3 linked regions of the Homo sapiens genome follow. The protein of the gene in region 3 interacts with the protein of the main gene of each other region in a pairwise test. Each region holds a gene or a part of one and is shown on either strand. Other genes may lie near its edges.

Region 1 (7,141 bases), on a different chromosome or scaffold from region 3:
CAGGAGGATTGCTTGAGCCCAGGAGTTCCAGTGCAGTCCAGCCTGGGCTACAGAGCAAGACCCTGTCTCTAAAAACAAAAGAAACCAACTAAGTAAAATATCAAAATTACCTAACAGTACCTACCCACCATACAGCCAAGCTTGCTAAAGGAAAACCCAGTTTAAGATTTCTCCAGGCCAAGAGGAGGAATGAGAGAAGGATTAATTTCCTCAAGTTAACACTTTCCTTAGGTCCAAGGAATCAATGCCTTAAAGCACACTGAAGTTTAGAACACTGTGGTGACAACAGACATTCCTACCTCTCCTGATTTCCACTGGATTAGCACCTTTGCTAATCTTCTCGAAGCCTTCCTTGGCTATAGAGCGTGCCAGTACAGTAGCAGTGGTAGTGCCATCCCCAGCTTCTTCATTTGTGTTATTGGCAACATCTTGAACAAGTTTAGCTCCAATGTTTTTGTATTTATCTTTTAAGTCAATTGACTTTGCAACAGTCACACCATCTTTTGTTACTTTGGGACTTCCCCAACTCTGCTCAATAATCACTGTTCTTCCCTAGAAGAAAAAAATGTAACAGGATCAGACATACCCTAAGGATGATTTACATTTTTAAAAATGAGCAGTCTTCATAATAAAGCAACTACTTCAAAGTCTCAACGTAAGTTGTGTCATTTTTATCAGTCTTGCAGCATGAACCTCAAGGGCAAGTTTATCGACATTCTTTGTCTACAGACAAAATGACCTGATTCTCTGCCAAGAGCATAATTTTGAACTAGGTAATTTAGGAGATTAAAATCCTAGGGACTAAAACTTGTCATCTTATAAAATGAACAAGAACACAAGACAAAGAATAAAACAATCTTCCTATCACTTATACTTTAGTTAGTGCCTGTTATCTTTTAAAGTAATGTGACTTGTTTTAAAATCCGTTTAACTAAAATATTAACCATCAAGGCAAGTAGCGTGCTCTTCCAGGTTCACGCAACATAAAACTTCAACCATGGCACAATTATTGGCCATCCTTTGGATTTGAACTAAAGCTGCTACTTTCTATTTGTGAGGTGTGCAAATGTTGTATTTTAGGCAGTTGTTGGATCACTTGATATCTGAACTGTCTTCAAACTGAAATGAAGCACCACTTGACTGCACACCACCTTCAAAGGCCTCCTCAAAACATTACCCCTATTAAATGAGACTTATTTTAAATATGCTTTGGAACAAGAGAACAGCAGAAAACCGATGGGTAAAACTAGCATCTTGGGGTGGAGGAGAGAATGGGAAGCTACTGTCTAATGAGTACAAAGTTACAATTTTTCCATATAAAAAGTTTTGGAGATGGATGGTGGTGATGACTGCACAACATAAATGTAATTGATGTCCCCAAAGTGCACACTTAATGGTAATTTTATGTTGTGTACATTTTACTACAATAAACCAAAAAAAAATTTAGCATCTACAAGCACATACCTAAGGAATTATGGAAGATAAGTTAAACTCTTCTCTCTACACTTGGCATGAACTACTGGGAAAGGATCCAAATTTTAACTTAAGCCAGCGAAATTCTACCTCGAGTTTAAGAATCCACCTTGAGCTGTAAGTTACTACCTGATTACATCACACATTGAACAAAATAGTTTCGAAAATCTGGCTGAAGCAGTTTAAGCTTTAAGATCATGTCTAAGAAAAAAAGGCTAACCAATACTTCAGAATTCTTACATGTAAACTGAGTTCTCTCAAAAATGGAGATGAAAGTACTGTTGAATAGTTCAGTGCGACTATTTGTGAGTAAAATGCTATTAATAATACCGTAATTACAATAAAATAAAAATACTGGTACCTTTGGCCCCATTGTAACGGCCACAGCATCGGCTAAAAGGTCTACACCTTGAAGCATTAAGGCTCGGGCATCTGCACCAAATTTTACATCTTTGGCATAAGCCCGAGTGAGATGAGGAGCCAGTACCCTGGACACCGGTCTCATCTGGCGAAAGACTGTGGGTAACCGAAGCATTTCTGGGGATGGAAGCAAAAAGATCATCAGAACTACCACCCGTGGTGCGCTGCAGAACAAACATGCCCACCTGTGCAACAGAGCAAGCAACGTGAGATGCTGAGCCTGGCTGACCTCCGCCAGCCACTACGCCTGAATGACGGAAGGCGCCGCAGCTTCGGAACATCAGCCACTAGCGCAAGCTAAAGAGGCCGCCCCGGCCGGCGCCTGACCTATAGCACCAGCACAAAGCACATGCGGCTCCTTCCCCACGGCCACCTATCCCTGCCGCCAAAAACGAGTTAATCTTTCACCGCGAAAACGGCCTTGTGGGCAGACCCACTCCAACTGTGGCCCCTGAGAAACCAAGTCAGCCGGAGAGAGGCAAGTTACAAATCCAAGTGACCAGGGAAGTTAAAAGTATTCCTGACGGTGCAAAAAGCCGCTCAGCAAAGTGTCTCCATGGATCCACCCAAGGCTACTGTATCAGAGCAACCAGCAAGGCCGCGATGCTGGGGGCGGCGGCCCGGCCCACTCGGCGCGAGCCCACGTGTCCTTCTTTCCGAACGCCCCCAGCAAGGTCAAGACTGGAGGCGCGGTATCCCAGCTGCCTGCGGGGGAAAAAAGCGGTTCCCTCACGTACACCACCCTCCCCGGTTCCCTGAAGTCGGCCAGGCGCAGGTTGCACCAGCGGGCCTAAGTGGTTACAATCCCCCAAATTCAAACCCCACGAGTTGTCCCTCCCGCGCCCAGCCGAGGTCCAGGATCCGCGTCGCACGTGATGGAACCCGCATGGACCCGCGAGGCCTGGACCCGCAGGCCTGGGCCTGCGGTGCGGCGCGGTGCGGAACTCCAGGTTGTCGCCGCCCGCACCCTCCAGCTGGACCGCAGAGGAGGAAGGCCCACTCGGGGGTCGCAGGAGCCGGGGGGAGGTGGTGCGGGAAGGCCGCGTACCTGCGGGGCGGCGGCAAGGCGTGCGCTCGGCGAGACAGGTCGTCGGCGGCGAGTGAGGGACAGAGTGCAGGGCGCACACCGCAATGAGCCCGTGTCCCCTCCCTCCGCCTCTACTCCCGCCCCGCGGCACCGCGTGTGCAGGCAGCTCCCACCCACTTCCCGTCAGCCCGGGCCCTGCAATCTGCACACCCTGCGCGCGAGCCCCGCCCCTCCCTACCCGCGCAGGGTGTGCTAGCGCGCTCAGCCCTCTCCGGCCGGCTTAGTCTAGTTCCCGGGCCTCGCTCGGTTCCAGAACTTTCCAGAAAATGCCGCGCTCCCTACGGCTCAAGGGTCAAATCGCGTCATTTCCGGGAGGGGACGAAGGGGTAGTTCTTTCACCTCGGCTGGGCGCCTAGAAAAGCCTAGAAACAGCTCCTTTTTTCTTCCGCCTCCGAGTCTTCGCGTCAGCGTCCTGCGCAGGGCCCTTGGGGCGAATCGCGGTGCGCGTCGGGGCGACCGCCCTCCCTCCCTGGGAGGGGCGAGGGGGCTAGCGGCGACCGCTGGGGCGAGCGCGCCTGCGCGCTGGGTGATTTTTTCACGTGTCGCCAGGGCCGGACTGCGAGTCTCTTTGCGGCGCTACACTAGAGCAGAGTACGAGTCTGAGGCGGAGGGAGTAATGGTGAGTCCCGCGTGGCCCCGAGGCCTGCAGGCCCGGGCCTGTCTGAGGCGTACGGGGATCCCTGACGCCCCTCTTTTGTTGGGCTGGGCGGGAGGGATTGGTGGCCACTCAGTGACCAGCGCCCGATGGCACCTTGGAGCGGCAAGGCCCGCCCGACCCTTTTCTCCCCCAGGGCTCTTTGCACGCGCGTGTGCTGCCGGTGTGTAAGGCAGGGGGGCGAGAACCCGGGCGCACGCGCAGCGTCTCACCTGCTTCTGCAGGGCCTTTGTGGATGTGTAATATCTTGGGTAAAAATCATGGTGCCAGGCAGGGAGCTTGACCCAGCGTTTCCTGAAAATTTCTGGAAAAACCTGAAGAAGGAAAACATTTGACCTTGGAATAAACTAAGGTTGACCTTAAAGCTGGTCTGGTTGCTCACCGGAGGAGCGACAACGACCCCTAACAGACGTAAGGAATCGGGAATTAAACTTGGAATATTGGTTAGTACATTCAAATGCGCTTCCTTAACGAATAAGCTGAGGTTTGGTGTTAACTTTCAAAGCCAAAACGTGTTGAGATGTATAGCACGGTGGCGTTGCCTGTTGATAATGTGATTACATTTAGTTTTTGTTTCAAAACATTTCTCTTCCTACAGGCAGGACAAGCGTTTAGAAAGTTTCTTCCACTCTTTGACCGAGTATTGGTTGAAAGGAGTGCTGCTGAAACTGTAACCAAAGGAGGCATTATGCTTCCAGAAAAATCTCAAGGAAAAGTATTGCAAGCAACAGTAGTCGCTGTTGGATCGGGTTCTAAAGGAAAGGTAAATGGGAGCTGCAGTGGAACTATTTTTTATAGTGTGCAGTGGAGGGAAAAGAAGTAATTCTGGAGTATTAAAAGTCGCTTATTAAGTAGAGTTTATGTCGTTTTCAAGATCATTAACTGCTTTGGTTCTAATCTGTTTCTTAAAGGGAAATGACTAATATAAAGTTGCTTATTTTATATGACCAATGCTATGATGCTTATTTTATGTGATAGTTTCAGAGTATTAAAAATTGTCCTCAATAGGCCGGGTGCGGTGGCTCTCGCCTGTAATCTCAGCACTTTGGGAGGCCGAGGTGTGCGGATCACAAGGTCAGGAGTTCAAGACCAGCCTGACCAACATGGTGAAACCCCGTCTCTACTAAAGATACAAAAATTAGCCGGGTGTGGTGGCATGCGCCTGTAATCCCAGCTACTGGGGAGGCTGAGGCAGGAGAATCATTTGAACCCTGGAGGCGGAGGTTGCAAGGAGCCGAGGTTGCAAGGCGCCCCTGCATTCCAGTATGGGGGACAGGGCGAGATTCTGTCTCAAAAAAAAAAAAAAAAAATCCCCTCAATAGCAATTTGGTAGCCTAGTGTGATCAGTGTTTGCCTTACATTCTAAATTTTTAATAAGACAAAAGAGGCTGTGCGTGGTGGCTCACACCTGTAATCCTTGCATTTTGGGAGGCCAAAGCAGGAGGATCGTTTGAGCTCAGGATTCAAAATCAGGAGTTCAAAATCAGTCTGGGCAACATAATGAGACCTCCTGTCTACAAAATAAATAAATACAAAAGATGTGCTTCAAGGTAAAATGAGGGGGCATTTAAGAATTGAGAGGAAACTTGGACTGTTCGTTTAACCCCTAACACATTGAAATTGCCCTAATCTTAACCAGTTGGTATACCTGGTTGTATACCTACCAGAGGAACAGGTTGGTCAGTCTTGTCCAATCTGCAGCCTGGGACAGCTCTGAATGCCGCCTAACGCAAATCCCTAAACTTTCTTAAAACCTGATATTTCTTTTGCAATTTTTTTTAAGCTTACCAGCTACTGCTAATGTTAGTGTATTTTATGTGTGGCCCAACACAGTTCTTCCAGTGTGGCCCAGGGAAGCCAAAAGATTGCACACCTCTGTTTTAGATGTTCCTCAGTTAATTGTTTAGGCCTCGGGCTTCTAAAGATCTCAGCCAAAATACACAGTAAACGCCGTTGGGGCCAAATAATGTTAACTGCATTGTTCTAGTTGCTTCTGAGGAGGAAAGCTCTACTGAGGAGCTGTCATGGAGTTAGGAATAGGAAGACTTTGGGGAGTGGACACTTAGCTGCAGTCCCTTTCCCCAAATCTGTTCTTTGGAGGGAACAAAACAATCACAAGAGTATGTTCTAAATCCAAAAAAACTTTAAATTTTTGTATGTTGAAAGAAGGAAAATATGACCATTTGTATATGGCATTTTCTGGGTGCTGGCTACTGTTGCAGGTTTATTTCATATAGTTGATAAGTTATGTTAATATTTAACAGTTATAAAGTTAGCTTTAGTTAACTAAAGTTAGCTTTTCCAGAATATTTTCTTGAACTTTTACGTTGGAGTCAGGTTTTAGTTTAAGCCACTGTGTATTATTTCAAAGTGTAACTACAGTGGTATTTTTGAGTGAAGATCTGTAATTCTAGTATGAGTCGTATCACTTAGCCACGAAATATATTTTTAATATAATTGGATTTGAGTGACCATGTTTCATTAGTTGTAGTGATTTAAAAGTTAACTGTTTATGTTGGGTGAACTAGATATCTTTGCTAATAAACATCCTTCCTTTTTTAAGGGTGGAGAGATTCAACCAGTTAGCGTGAAAGTTGGAGATAAAGTTCTTCTCCCAGAATATGGAGGCACCAAAGTAGTTCTAGATGACAAGGTGTGTAAACTTAATAATTCTAAAAAGAAGTCAGATATTTGCAATTAGTTGTCTTAACTAATGGTTTTTTTCACTTGCAGGATTATTTCCTATTTAGAGATGGTGACATTCTTGGAAAGTACGTAGACTGAAATAAGTCACTATTGAAATGGCATCAACATGATGCTGCCCATTCCACTGAAGTTCTGAAATCTTTCGTCATGTAAATAATTTCCATATTTCTCTTTTATAATAAACTAATGATAACTAATGACATCCAGTGTCTCCAAAATTGTTTCCTTGTACTGATATAAACACTTCCAAATAAAAATATGTAAATGAGTGGTTAATCTTTAGTTATTTTAAGATGATTTTAGGGTTTTCTAGTTTATGCTTTTTTTCTGTTTTTCAAGTAACCTGCAGAGAATTTTGGGAAACAGGATTTTCTACGTAGGTGCATTTTCACACTGAATTTAGCTTTATTAATACATGATTGATACTGATACCAAGCCATGGATTTACTTTTTTTTTTTTTTTTTCTGAGACGGATTCTCACTCTGTCACCCAGGCTGGAGTGCAGTGGTTCAATCTTGGCTTACTGCAACCTCCGCCTTCTGGGTTCAAGTGATTCTCCTCCCTCAGCCTCCAGAGTACCTGGGATTACAGGCGTGCACCACCATGCCCAGCTAATTTTTGTGTTTTTAGTAGAGACAGGTTTTGCCATGTTGCCCAGGCTAGTCTCAGACTCCCAAAGTGCTGGGATTACAAGCGTGAGCCACCACAGCAACATTCAGATTTCAAATATAACAAGCTAACGAGTTACAGGTCTTAAGGTGTTCAATACTTTGTGGATACAGGTCTTCATTCCTAACTC
Region 2 (7,000 bases), on a different chromosome or scaffold from region 3:
GCAAGCCCCCAGCCCGCCCAGGCTGCATCCAGCCCGTGCTCCTTCCACATCTCCTGTACCTGGCTGTCCCATGGTCACCTCACAGCTCAGTCTACAGTGAGCTACTGAGGCCTGTGCTACCTGCCACTTGTGTGGGCCCCCCCAAGGCTGCCTCATCTCTTTGCTGCAGCTACACCTGGGTGCTGCCCCGACTCCTCTCCTCTTGCACACACAGCTGATCCATTAGGAGGTCTGTCAGCGCCCACTATCACGGCTGCCATCTTGGATGCAGCCTGCCTCCTCCCTAGGGTTTCTGCAGCACCCTGGCTTGTCTCCCTCTGCCCTGCCCCAGCATGGTCCTTTCTTTCCCATCCTTCCCCTGGAGGCCCTCCTGGTCACCATCTCACCACGGCAACTGGGGTCCTTCAGGGGCCTCATTCCCTCCTAGGGGATCATGTTGGATAGAGGGGTCAGTGGGCACGTAGCTCTCGCGGATCACGTTGGATGGAGGGATCAGTGGGCACGTAGCAGGCTCTTGGTGGAAGATGTTGGATGGAGGGGTAAGTCGGCCCATGGCAGGACGCATGTTGAATGGACGGGTTAGCAGGCATGTAGTAGGCCCATGGCAGACACTTGTTGGATGGAGGTGTCAGCAGGCACATAGTAGGTGTGTGGCAGATCATGTTGGATGGAGCGGTTTAGCAGGTGCACAGTAGGCCCTGGGTGGATCACGTTGAATGGAGGGGTTGGGGGCGCAGATCATGTTCGATGGAGCGGTTGGCAGGGTACTGCCCTACAGGGCGGCTTGTCACCCGTGCTGTGAGAAGCCCCACGCTGGCTGAAGAGGAGGGTGTCAGCATGCACTGGAGGTGCATGTTGTAAGGCTTGGCAGGTGAACTGGGTGAAAGGTGTGGGTGAGTGGCCCCAGGCATAAGGAGCTAGGCAGAGAGGGACACTTGGGGTGGGGGACAGCACACCCAGGGGCCGGGGGCCAGGAGTGGAGGCTGGCACTTGGCAAACCTGCCCCCTTCCTCCTCACCCAGCCTGGTCCTCAACCCTCAGGCCGCCCAGGGAAGGGTTTCCTCCACCTGAACCCACTCAGCTCCTTTCTTAGCTTGGCCCCACGCCACCGTCCCCAGCCCATTGCTCTGTGTGAGGGTGGCAGTGGGGCTGCAGTGTGGGGCGCCCATGCTGTTTTCTCTCATGCTTCAGCCAAGAACTACATCGCGCTGGATGACTTTGTGGAGATCACTAAGAAGTACGCCAAGGGCGTCATCCCCAGCAGCCTGTTCCTGCAGGACGACGAAGATGATGACGAGCTGGCGGGGAAGAGCCCTGAGGACCTGCCACTGCGTCTGAAGGTGAGTGACCAAGACCCCGGTCAGGCCGGAGCCTGCCTCCCAAGGACTCGCGCACCTCAGGCAGGGCACCTTCCAGGAAGCTGCAGGTGGGGAGGTTCGCGCCTAACAAAGAGTGTCTTACAGCCGTGCCGCTGGTACCTTTGGGTCATCATCTATCGTCATAAGGATGTGTCCTCGGGAGAGAGGCCTTTCTTTTCTGCGCCGTCAGGCTCAGAAACCAGGGGCGGTGTTGGGCAGGAGTGCTAGGATGGCAAGCAAGGGGCCCCTGGGTCTTTCTGTGCAGTGTAGGGGGCAGTGGGGCGGGCTGGACGCAGACTTTCATCTAGACTTCATCACTTAGCAGATTTCTCCATGTATGGTCCAGAGTGGAGGCCAGTGCCTTGAAGATGCCTTCCCCGAAAACAAAGTGCCGTGTCCGTCAGGCCAGGGAGGACGTGCAGAGGCGCCTACTGCCCCTGGATCTGCAAGGGCTCAGGGAGCGAGGCCAGTGTGGGAGCGTGGTGGGTGACACTTGTGCAGGGTGCCATTGGGCACACCTGGAGGACATGAGCAGCTTTGGCGGCAGGAGGAAAGCGGGGAGCGGGGAGCGGGAAGCCCAGCAGTGCGGGCCCTACTCCTGGCCTGACAGCTTGTTTTCTTGGCCATGTGGCCCTATGGCCTCTCACAGAGTTGCTCACAGTTCAGCTCGCATGGTTGAATTAGATGTGTGCCTGTCTCACTCTGCAGAGAACACCAGGATTTCCAGAAGCTTGGCCTCCTGACCCAGGATCCCCAAGCTGAGGCCAGCACAGGGGGCCCCAGCAGATGATTGTCACAGAGGCTGCGGGCAGTATCATGCAGGCACCCTGGGGTTCTGTCTTCTGAACTGACTGAGAACCTGGAGGAACTGCCATCATTGTATTCAGATGGGCGCGTGAGTCAGGGCCAGGACCAGGAGATGGTTGGGCCACCAACTGTCAGGCAGGCAGCAGGCTGAAAGGTCACCGTCCTCGAGCCAGGGAGAAGGTCAGAGTAGGCCCGCCCTCCGGTGGGGGGGAAGAGCAGGAACCCAGGTGCTGCAGGAGCAGCTTCAGCCCAAAGAGCAGCAGGCACAGCAGCCCTGCTGCAGGGACTCGGAGCCAGACAGGTCTGAGTGTGAGCCCCCCGAGTGCCCAGAGCTGCGAGTCCTTTAGGGTGGCAGGTGGAAGGCTCTGCTCCTCCCACTTGGGACAGGCTGTATGTCCAGGGTATGACACCGACCGGTCTGCAGAGGTTCTGAGACATGGGCCAGGATGGCCAAGAACTTGAACCAAGGGAGCACATGGTTTTTACTGATGGTCTGCTCAGAGCTGGCCCTAGGCAAGCATATTCACAGATTGGGTGCCATCATCTCCTTACTAATGGGAGATGAGGAAGCTGGGGTGCTGGCATGGTTTTGGCAAAGACACTCCCGAAATGAGAGTGAGGGTCACAGGTGAACGGGTTAACTTGGAGAAGACCCTTGGGCCAGGCGGCCATGGCCCAGGTGTCCCAGTTTATGCCATCTGGTGTAAGTACTATTATAATAATGCCTCCTTGCATATGCGTCCTGTTCGGAAAATTATGTCACCTAGTTATGGATGGTGAGTCTAGTGTTGTGTAGCATCTGAAAATCCTATTTATTTATGTTACTTAATGACAGGGTCTCGTTCTGTTGCACAGGCTGGAGTGCAGTGGCACGGTCACAGCTCACTGCAGCCTCAACGTGCCAAACTCAAGTGATCCTCCCACCTCAGCCTCCCAAATAGCTGGACTACAGGCATGTGCCACCACACCCAGCTGATTTTTTTGAAAACATTTTGTAGCGATGGGGGTCTCACTATTGTTATCTACGCTGGTCTCAAACTCCTGGGTCAAGCGAGCCTCCCACTTTGGCCTCCCACACTGCTGGGATTCAGGCGTGAGACACTGTATCCAGCCTGAAAGTCCTTTTTAGAAGGGAGAGATTTAAGCTGTTTTGACAAGAAGTAAACAAGACTCTGTTTCCCTTTAGTTTTGGATGCTGTCAGAGCACTTCGATTCCTTTGCAGTTTGTCTTCTTAGAAGTCTCTTGTGAGGGAGGCAATGAATCGTCACAAGCGTCTCCCAGGGCTGAGAGCTGTCCCACCTTTTAGTAGCCTTTTGTAGAACAAGGAGAGGTCTTCACTCAAAGTGAAAATGACAGACACCTCTTTGTGAGCCACCCTTACTCCCACAAAGAATGTTCCAGACTCCACACAGTTCTCTTCTGGAGCCTGGAGGTGCAAGCTGTCATCGTAGATAGAATCCTCTGAAAACAAACTTAATATCTTAAAATCGTAACATTTTTAACATTACATAATTGGAAGATCCGACACGGGAACATTTTTGCCCACAGGTTTGAGCAGAATCTCGTCTCGGCTCCCTTCCCCAGCCTGCCTTCTTCACGGGTCCGCTGGGCCATCGGTGTGGTGACGCTGCTTCCTGGTTTCTCGTGGCAGCAGAAGGGCCGATCACCACAGGCCCAGACAGAGAGCTCTGCAGTGTTCTATTCATAGAGGCAGACTCCTCATAGTTTTTAAGTTTCGTTCTTTTTCCATCTCAGGAGTTGAATTTGTTTGGACCTTCTTTGCAGAAAAGGAGACTGAACTTTTTAATCCCATGTCAGAGGAAGGTCTTGGGTGTACATTGCAGGGAGCAGAAATTGGGGCTTTAAAAAGGGGATCGTTCCCTGGTCATCGAGTTCAGGTGGGGGACCAGCCCCTCCACACTGTCCAAGCAGAGGCTAGACGCCATCCAACGTAATGTTCTAGAATATTCCTTGTCTTTTAAAGGCCCTCTCAACCAGGTGGTTGTGTGTGTTCTAGGCAAAAGAATGTGCATGGCTTTGAGTAAGACAGGATTTCAGATTTATTTTTACCAAGGCCACCCCCTTGCTACCGTGGCGGTCGTGCGTGAAACTGGTGGTGAGCAGTGGCGGGCCAGGCCACCTTTAGTTGTCCTGCTGTTCGCAAGGCCCCCATACGGGGATTAACTGAGCAGCCTGCCGGCTGACGCACATGTTGACTCGTGTAGCTGTTGATTTTAGCCAGCTGGCCTGGCGTCATACTACAGGGGCTTGCCCCAAACAAACCCTGGAGTAGGTTGGTTTTCATAAATGCCCTCTGGCTCTCTGGCAAGCGTTGGAAATGCCCTCAAACCCTGTAGTGCCTGGTCTTCCCTGGCCATCTCCTGGCAGTGTGAGCGCCTCTCTGCTCATGTAGAAGGTTGTTGACCCCAGAGAGAGCTAGGGGAGCTGTTAGCTGCTTTAATCGTTTATTTGCTTGTTATAAAACAGAGATTAAGTGGACTGTCACAAATATACATGAAGCAGCAGAGCTGTTCCCCCACGTGTAGACGTGCATGCACACACTCCTAAACACTTCCGTTTCTTCCATGAGCCTGTCCTTCTCATCTGTGGAAGGCTCAGTCTGTGTAGACATGCATGCACACACTCATAACACTTCCGTTTCCTCCATGAGCCTGCCCCTCTCCTCTCATCTGTGGAAGACTCAGTCTTCTGGTTGTTTCCAGGTGTCCTGGTCCTCCAGAGCTGATAGCCAGGCTGTTGGCAGGTGAGGGCCACATTCTGGTGTTGTCACCTAGTTGCCATTCACCTGGGATCCCTCCTTGGCCTTCTGGTGGGCCTGGTGGAGAGAACCTGCCCCAGGGGATTTGTGGGGTCTGGTGCTTCCCCGAGGCCCGGAGCTGATGGGGGGCTCCAGCCTGGATGTGTCATGTAGCCCCTCAGTGGGCCCTGGACATGCAGCCAGGCTTCCCTACCCCCATGTGGGGCCGCCCCCTAGGCGTCCACTTCCTGGTGTTGGTCCAGGCCCCTGGCACTTCTGAAGATGCACAGAACCTGCTTTGTATGCCACGCCATGCTGTGTGAGCACTGGCACCATGGCCACTTTGTCCCCCATCCCCTCCAGTCCCTCTGCCTGGCTGCCCTGTGTTCTGGCAGGGCTCAGGGCCTCTGAGTTCTGCACAGACCAGGAAGGCATGAGGGCTGGCCCTGGGTGGCAGCGCTGCTTCACCCCATCCTGAGGCTGCTCCCAGCATGCCTCCCTCAGCCCTCTGCTCCTCTTGGCTGTGGTGAAGGCCAAGAGCTCTTTCTGACCTTAGCGCTGCATGCAGAGCAGGGGAGCAGGACCCACAGGTCGGGGGAAGGCAGCCTTTGGCCTTGACTATGGGGAGGTAGGGGTGCGCTGGTGTGTATGTGTAGGTGCACACGTGTAGGGGTGGGTGTGCATGTGTGAGGGTGCACGTGTGGGGGTGGGTGTGCACGTGTGTGTAGGGGTGGGTTGCGTGTGTGTGAATGTGTATAGGGGTGGGTTGTGTGAATGTGTGTGTAGGGGTGGGTTGCGTGTGTGTGAATGTGTGTGTAGGGGTGGGTTTGAATGCAGGTAGGTTGCGTGTGTGTGTAGGGGTGGGTTGCGTGTGTGTGAATGTGTGTGTAGGGGTGGGTTGTTTGCGGGTAGGTTGCGTGTGTGTGAATGTGTGTGTAGGGGTGGGTTGTGTGAATGCGGGTAGGTTGCGTGTGTGTGTGTAGGGGTGGGTTGCGTGTGTGTGAATGTGTGTGTAGGGGTGGGTTGTTTGAATGCGGGTAGGTTGCGTGTGTGTGAATGTGTATAGGGGTGGGTTGTGTGAATGCGTGTGTGTAGGGGTGGGCTGCATGTGTGTGTGTAGGGGTGGGTTGTGTGTGTGTGTATGGGGTGGGTTTGTGTGAATGCGTGTGTGTAGGGGTGGGTTGCGTGTGTGTGTGTGCACGTGTGTGTACGGGCAGAAGGTGGCCTGGCAGCTGCTTCTCAGGGTCTCCGGCCATAGGGAGGGCAGCTCACCCGGCAGCCCCGTGCAGCTGAACGGTATTTTTGCTGGGAGAGTGGTGCTGGGCCCTCTGCCTGTGTCTGCACTGAACTCCCTTTCCCTAATGCTTGCTCTGCCACCCCTCCGGGGACTGCCTGCGGCTTCTCCTCCTCGTAAGGATCGCCATTTCCCTTCATGGAGGCTCAGGGAGGTGACATCCTTGCTGTAGTGCAGAGCTGGGTCACAAAACCAGCTCCCAGACAGGCATCTCAGGGCTCCGTCATCTCTTCATGTGGGTGACCCTGAGGGGAGGGAAGTGGGGAGCCCGTGGGTCCCTCCAGTGCTGGAGGTCTTGCAGGGAGAGAAGCACACATGCATCTAGTCACGCTGGTAGAAGGTGGGGAGCCAGGCACGGGGCAGAGGGGGGCTCCAGGCCCAGAAGAGGGAGGGCTCACAGGGACCGCGAGCATGGGGAGGGCCACCTGGAGAAGGGGGGAGGGAGGACCACTAGGATGGGGCTGGTGATGGGAAAACGCAAGGGTGCGGGTTCCTTTTGCCCAGAGGCAGGGTGGTCAGAGGGAGGCGTGAGATGGGAGCAGTGGGGGTCCTGTCCCAGCCTCGTTCCCACGTACCATCTTTCCCCCAGGTGGTCAAGTACCCCCTGCACGCCATCATGGAGATCAAGGAGTACCTGATTGACATGGCCTCCAGGGCAGGCATGCACTGGCTGTCCACCATCATCCCCACGCACCACATCAACGCGCTCATCTTCTTCTTCATCGTCAGCAACCTCACCATCGACTTCTTCGCCTTCTTCATCCCGCTGGTCATCTTCTACC
Region 3 (3,907 bases):
AGTAACTTAAACTTTGGCATTTCCCATCTAGAAGCCTTAGTCTTCTTTCCAGTCCCTTTTCCCTTTAGTCAAATGGCACAACCCTAAAAACTCCTTCAGCTTGACTGTCATTCAGACTGTATCACAGGAGGCTTAGCTTCCAAACTGGAGAGAAGGAACTAAAGTGTCTTATGAATTTCAGCTTCTTGGCTCTTGAGACCGAAAGGTTCTACCTATTCCCCCTGCAGAGAAGCACCCATTTCCCATCAGATGCTCGTCCCTGCAGCTTCTTCCTTCTTGGTCATCATAATGCTAGGTTCTTACCCCTTTCCTGCCCTCTGCACCTCATGTCCACCTCCAGGCAGCTCTGGCCAGTCCCCGGGTATTAGACCCAAGAATTCAAATCAAATCTAAAAACATGCTTATAACTACATTTTGGCCAAAACTGCCAATGTATTTGACTTCCTTTGTGGAAGCCCTAAGCCATATGAAGGATGTCCCAGGTATGTATTTACCCAGATCTCTGCCTGAAACTGAAGAGCAGATTGCTGTATTTAAATTTTCCCATGGAAAACCCTGCTTCTCAAATCCCATTCTAAAGTAGGAAACCAGAAAGACTTTGCTGATTGTGGGGGGAAGGGAGAAACAGACAGGTTTTCACATTGTTGCCAAGGCTGGTCTTGAACACCTGGCCTCAAGCGATCCTCCCACCTCGGCCTCTCAAAGTGTTGGGATTGTAGGCATGAGCCACTGCACCCAGCCAGACTTTCCTGATTTAAATGAGAGTACTGCATCATTCCCTACTTCATGGCCCAAAACTTAATCCTGGGCCAAATGCAGGAGCATCTCTCGACCTCTGGGCAGATTGGTGGGTGCCCAGGCACTAGTCACAGCCTTCCAGCCCAGCCATGATTGTTGGATGCCCCATCCCTCCAAGAGCAATTTGGGCATCTACTCAGGCAGGATAAAATTCCCTAGAGCTGAGGAAGTTCAGCCTCTCCCAGGCTACACAGAGAGAGATGATACAAGCACCTCAGATTGAGATGCAGGATTGGTCCGCAGAAGGAGGCATTGTTGACCAACCCCAGCTATAATTGCTTGTCACCAGAGATTCTGCATACCCATTTCCAGAGATGTTGCAGCACAAAGAGGCAAGACTCCTTCCAATGCCAGGCCACCCAGATAGCAAGAGAGAGAGGCTGGTATACACATTCCTTCAGAACTCATTGAAAAGCGCTCATAACTCGTGATTTTAAGGAGTAAGTTTTTGCTGAGTAGCTGAAGTCAGTGCTCCTTTACTTAGCTGCCTCTTTGGCCTTGTTTCCTGTGGGGTTGGGAGGAGGGAGATGTAGTGTGAGGTAGGCCTTCCCTTGGTCTGTATTCAGCATAGTTGCCTAGATGCTGCTCTGCCTTGTTTGATGGTTGATCTTAGGAAGCTCTAGGTTTTACTCTGAGGCCTCAAACCCTCCCCCTATGCAGTATAGCTGTTGGGTTTTTGTCCTGGACAAAGGCCACGGCTGTTGTGCTGCGCTTCAGGTTTGTGAGGCTGCGGAGTGGTACCCCCACCATGCACGCAAGCACACACACACAGATACTTCCCTCTCCACCCTTTTGGGAGCTCTTTATTTTAGAATGTAACTTGAACTCACTTTTATCATTGGCCTTTTTCCTCTTACTCTGACTTCCTAGCTTAGCTCTTTCCAAAAGGAACTTGAACTTGGCCAAGAGAGGTAAGGAGGCTGAGCAGAGCAGTCTTTGCTCATTCCTGGTTGTTGCCACCCTCATTTAAATGGAAGAGAGAAAACAGGAGCTTCTTGGCTGTTTGCCAAAATGAATTGTCCAGGGAACACAGTGCTCTCTGTAATTACCCTGCCTTTTTCTCCACCCCAACACAAAAATCTGGAAAGGAAAATAAGTGGGTAGGATTAAGAGCTGTTAGAAGCTGAGGACCAAAGGACACTGTGGGTCCATTCATCAAGGGGGAGACCCTCTTCATTAGAGTCCTCATGAAATTAGCCAAATGATGAGTCCTTCCCTAGCTGGGCATGGTGGGTTCTCTTTTTTTTTTTTTTTTTTTTTTTGTTGTTGTTGTTGAGATGGAGTCTCGCTCTGTCACCCAGGCTGGAGTACAGTGGCATGATCTCGGCTCACTGCAACCTCCGCCTCCCAGGTTCAAGCGATTCTCCTACCTCAGCCTCCTGATTAGCTGAGATTACAGGCGCCCACCACCACGCCTGGCTAATTTTTGTATTTTTAGTAGAGATGGGGTTTCACCATGTTGACCAGGCTGTTCTCAAACTCCTGACCTCAGGTGATCTGCTCACCTTGGCCTCCCAAAGTGCTGGGATTACAGGCATGAGCCACCATGCCTGGCCAGGCACTGTGGGTTCTACAGGATGGGTCTGTAATGTCACGGTGAGGGCTCTCTCTAGTAGTAGATCTGGAGTGAGGTGTGTCTTGGGTTGAGGAGGTGGCTTGACTTTCGAATGTAAAACTGACTGTGCCTTAGCATCACCCTGTCCAGTGCCCCTGGGGCAGCTGGTAGTGTCCAGAAGAATGGACACCTGCTCCAGATTTAGATGCCCATCTGGGCTTTTGTTTGATTTGCGGCGTTCCTGTCTTCTGTAAAGCTAGTGAGTTGTCCCAAGAGACTGATGCCACAGCTTGTTCGCAGTTTACACAAACTCAGCTTTAAAATTCCAAATAGAATCTGACTTGCAAACTCTAGCTGCAGCATGTGGAGCTTCTAGATGTTTACTACCTTGAATGGTTGTCAGTGTCACTGAACCACAGGGGAGAGGAGTATGGGGTAGAGCAATGGTCTGGGCCAAGGAATGGTGAGCTTAGGGTCTTCCTCTGACTCCTTACTCCTCAAGGAGGCAGTTAGGGTCCCTCTTAAGCAGGCTTCTATTTCTTACCACTAAATTGGTTTCCTTTTTCATCCAGAAGTTAGAACTCCCCAGATATTCACACTATAGGATCTGAATTCCGAGATTCTAAAATATCTTAAACCACAAGAGAGAAAATCTAGTTCTGCCTCAGCCCCAGTCAGCAGGCCATCTGTCCCTTCCTCTCCTCTGAGTCAGACAGCTCTGGCAAGCAAGGCTCCTTGGCTAGTTCCTAATGCACTGACAGGAGCCCTCCCATTAAGGACGACTTCTACTCAAAATGCGACTCTCCCTCTGAACTTCAGATGCCTCTGTTAGCAGGAAAAGGCATTGATTGGATTGGATATATTTATGTGACTGCGGGCATTTGTGGCTGTAGAATCCGTGACCGTAATGTTATATGTAATGGGAACTATCTTATAAACTTGAAAAAAATAAAGTTTTTATTTTCTATAGTTTGCTCCTGTGTCTTTTCTGAATAGGATCAGCACAGTTGCCCAGCTGTGTGGGGTCCTAATTATGGCTTCATAAAAATTCTAAGAGTTCATTAGAAAGATGTCACCCTTTCAGTAACTGGGTCATTTCACCAAAAAAGTAAGAACAAACCATTTGGTATAAATATACATGGGAAAATATTTTAAAATAATTTGTATGGGAGAATGTATTGTTTCTAAAATATATTGCTTTTAAAGTTTAGAACTGGAGTGAGAAAAGATTTCATTCACTTCCAAATATGCTGAAATTTATTAAGGAGAGAAATCAGTACCTTGCTGCACTGCACTTAAACCACAAAAGCGATAAAACTGACAAACTGATACCAAACCTCATTTGATTTGCCCTGATTTCCTGTCACATCAACTACTTTTTCTCATTTCATTTCTCTGATTTGGGTCTGGCTGTATCCCTCTGGTCTGGAAAACAGTCACAAAGCCTTTCTGCCTTTTAGTCCAATGAAGGAAATCAGAATTGGGTTCTAGCTTCCAAGTACCATACATGTCAGACTATAAGATGTATTTTTCCAAAAATTCCCCAGAAAAGAG

What was found. The genes of interacting proteins can lie anywhere in the genome.
Region 1: the proteins of EYA3 (region 3) and HSPD1 interact in binary tests that used the Homo sapiens proteins (3 or more experiments, as listed by UniProt).
Region 2: the proteins of EYA3 (region 3) and WFS1 interact in binary tests that used the Homo sapiens proteins (3 or more experiments, as listed by UniProt).

Annotation. Positions count from the first base shown.
Region 1 is NC_000002.12:197,496,841-197,503,981, forward strand, and holds the start of HSPD1 (60 kDa heat shock protein, mitochondrial), read right to left. Parts: upstream 3,001-7,141; 5' UTR 2,942-3,000; intron 2,011-2,941; 5' UTR 2,009-2,010; coding exon 1,835-2,008; intron 553-1,834; coding exon 300-552; intron 1-299. Other genes in the region: HSPE1-MOB4 protein, read left to right, coding at 3,597-3,599, 4,234-4,398; HSPE1 (10 kDa heat shock protein, mitochondrial), read left to right, coding at 3,597-3,599, 4,234-4,398, 6,199-6,288, 6,369-6,419. UniProt on the Homo sapiens protein: Chaperonin implicated in mitochondrial protein import and macromolecular assembly. Together with Hsp10, facilitates the correct folding of imported proteins.
Region 2 is NC_000004.12:6,293,850-6,300,849, forward strand, and holds part of WFS1 (wolframin), read left to right. Parts: intron 1-1,191; coding exon 1,192-1,340; intron 1,341-6,807; coding exon 6,808-7,000. UniProt on the Homo sapiens protein: Participates in the regulation of cellular Ca(2+) homeostasis, at least partly, by modulating the filling state of the endoplasmic reticulum Ca(2+) store.
Region 3 is NC_000001.11:27,969,759-27,973,665, reverse strand, and holds the end of EYA3 (protein phosphatase EYA3), read left to right. Parts: 3' UTR 1-3,322; downstream 3,323-3,907. UniProt on the Homo sapiens protein: Tyrosine phosphatase that specifically dephosphorylates 'Tyr-142' of histone H2AX (H2AXY142ph). 'Tyr-142' phosphorylation of histone H2AX plays a central role in DNA repair and acts as a mark that distinguishes between apoptotic and repair responses to genotoxic stress.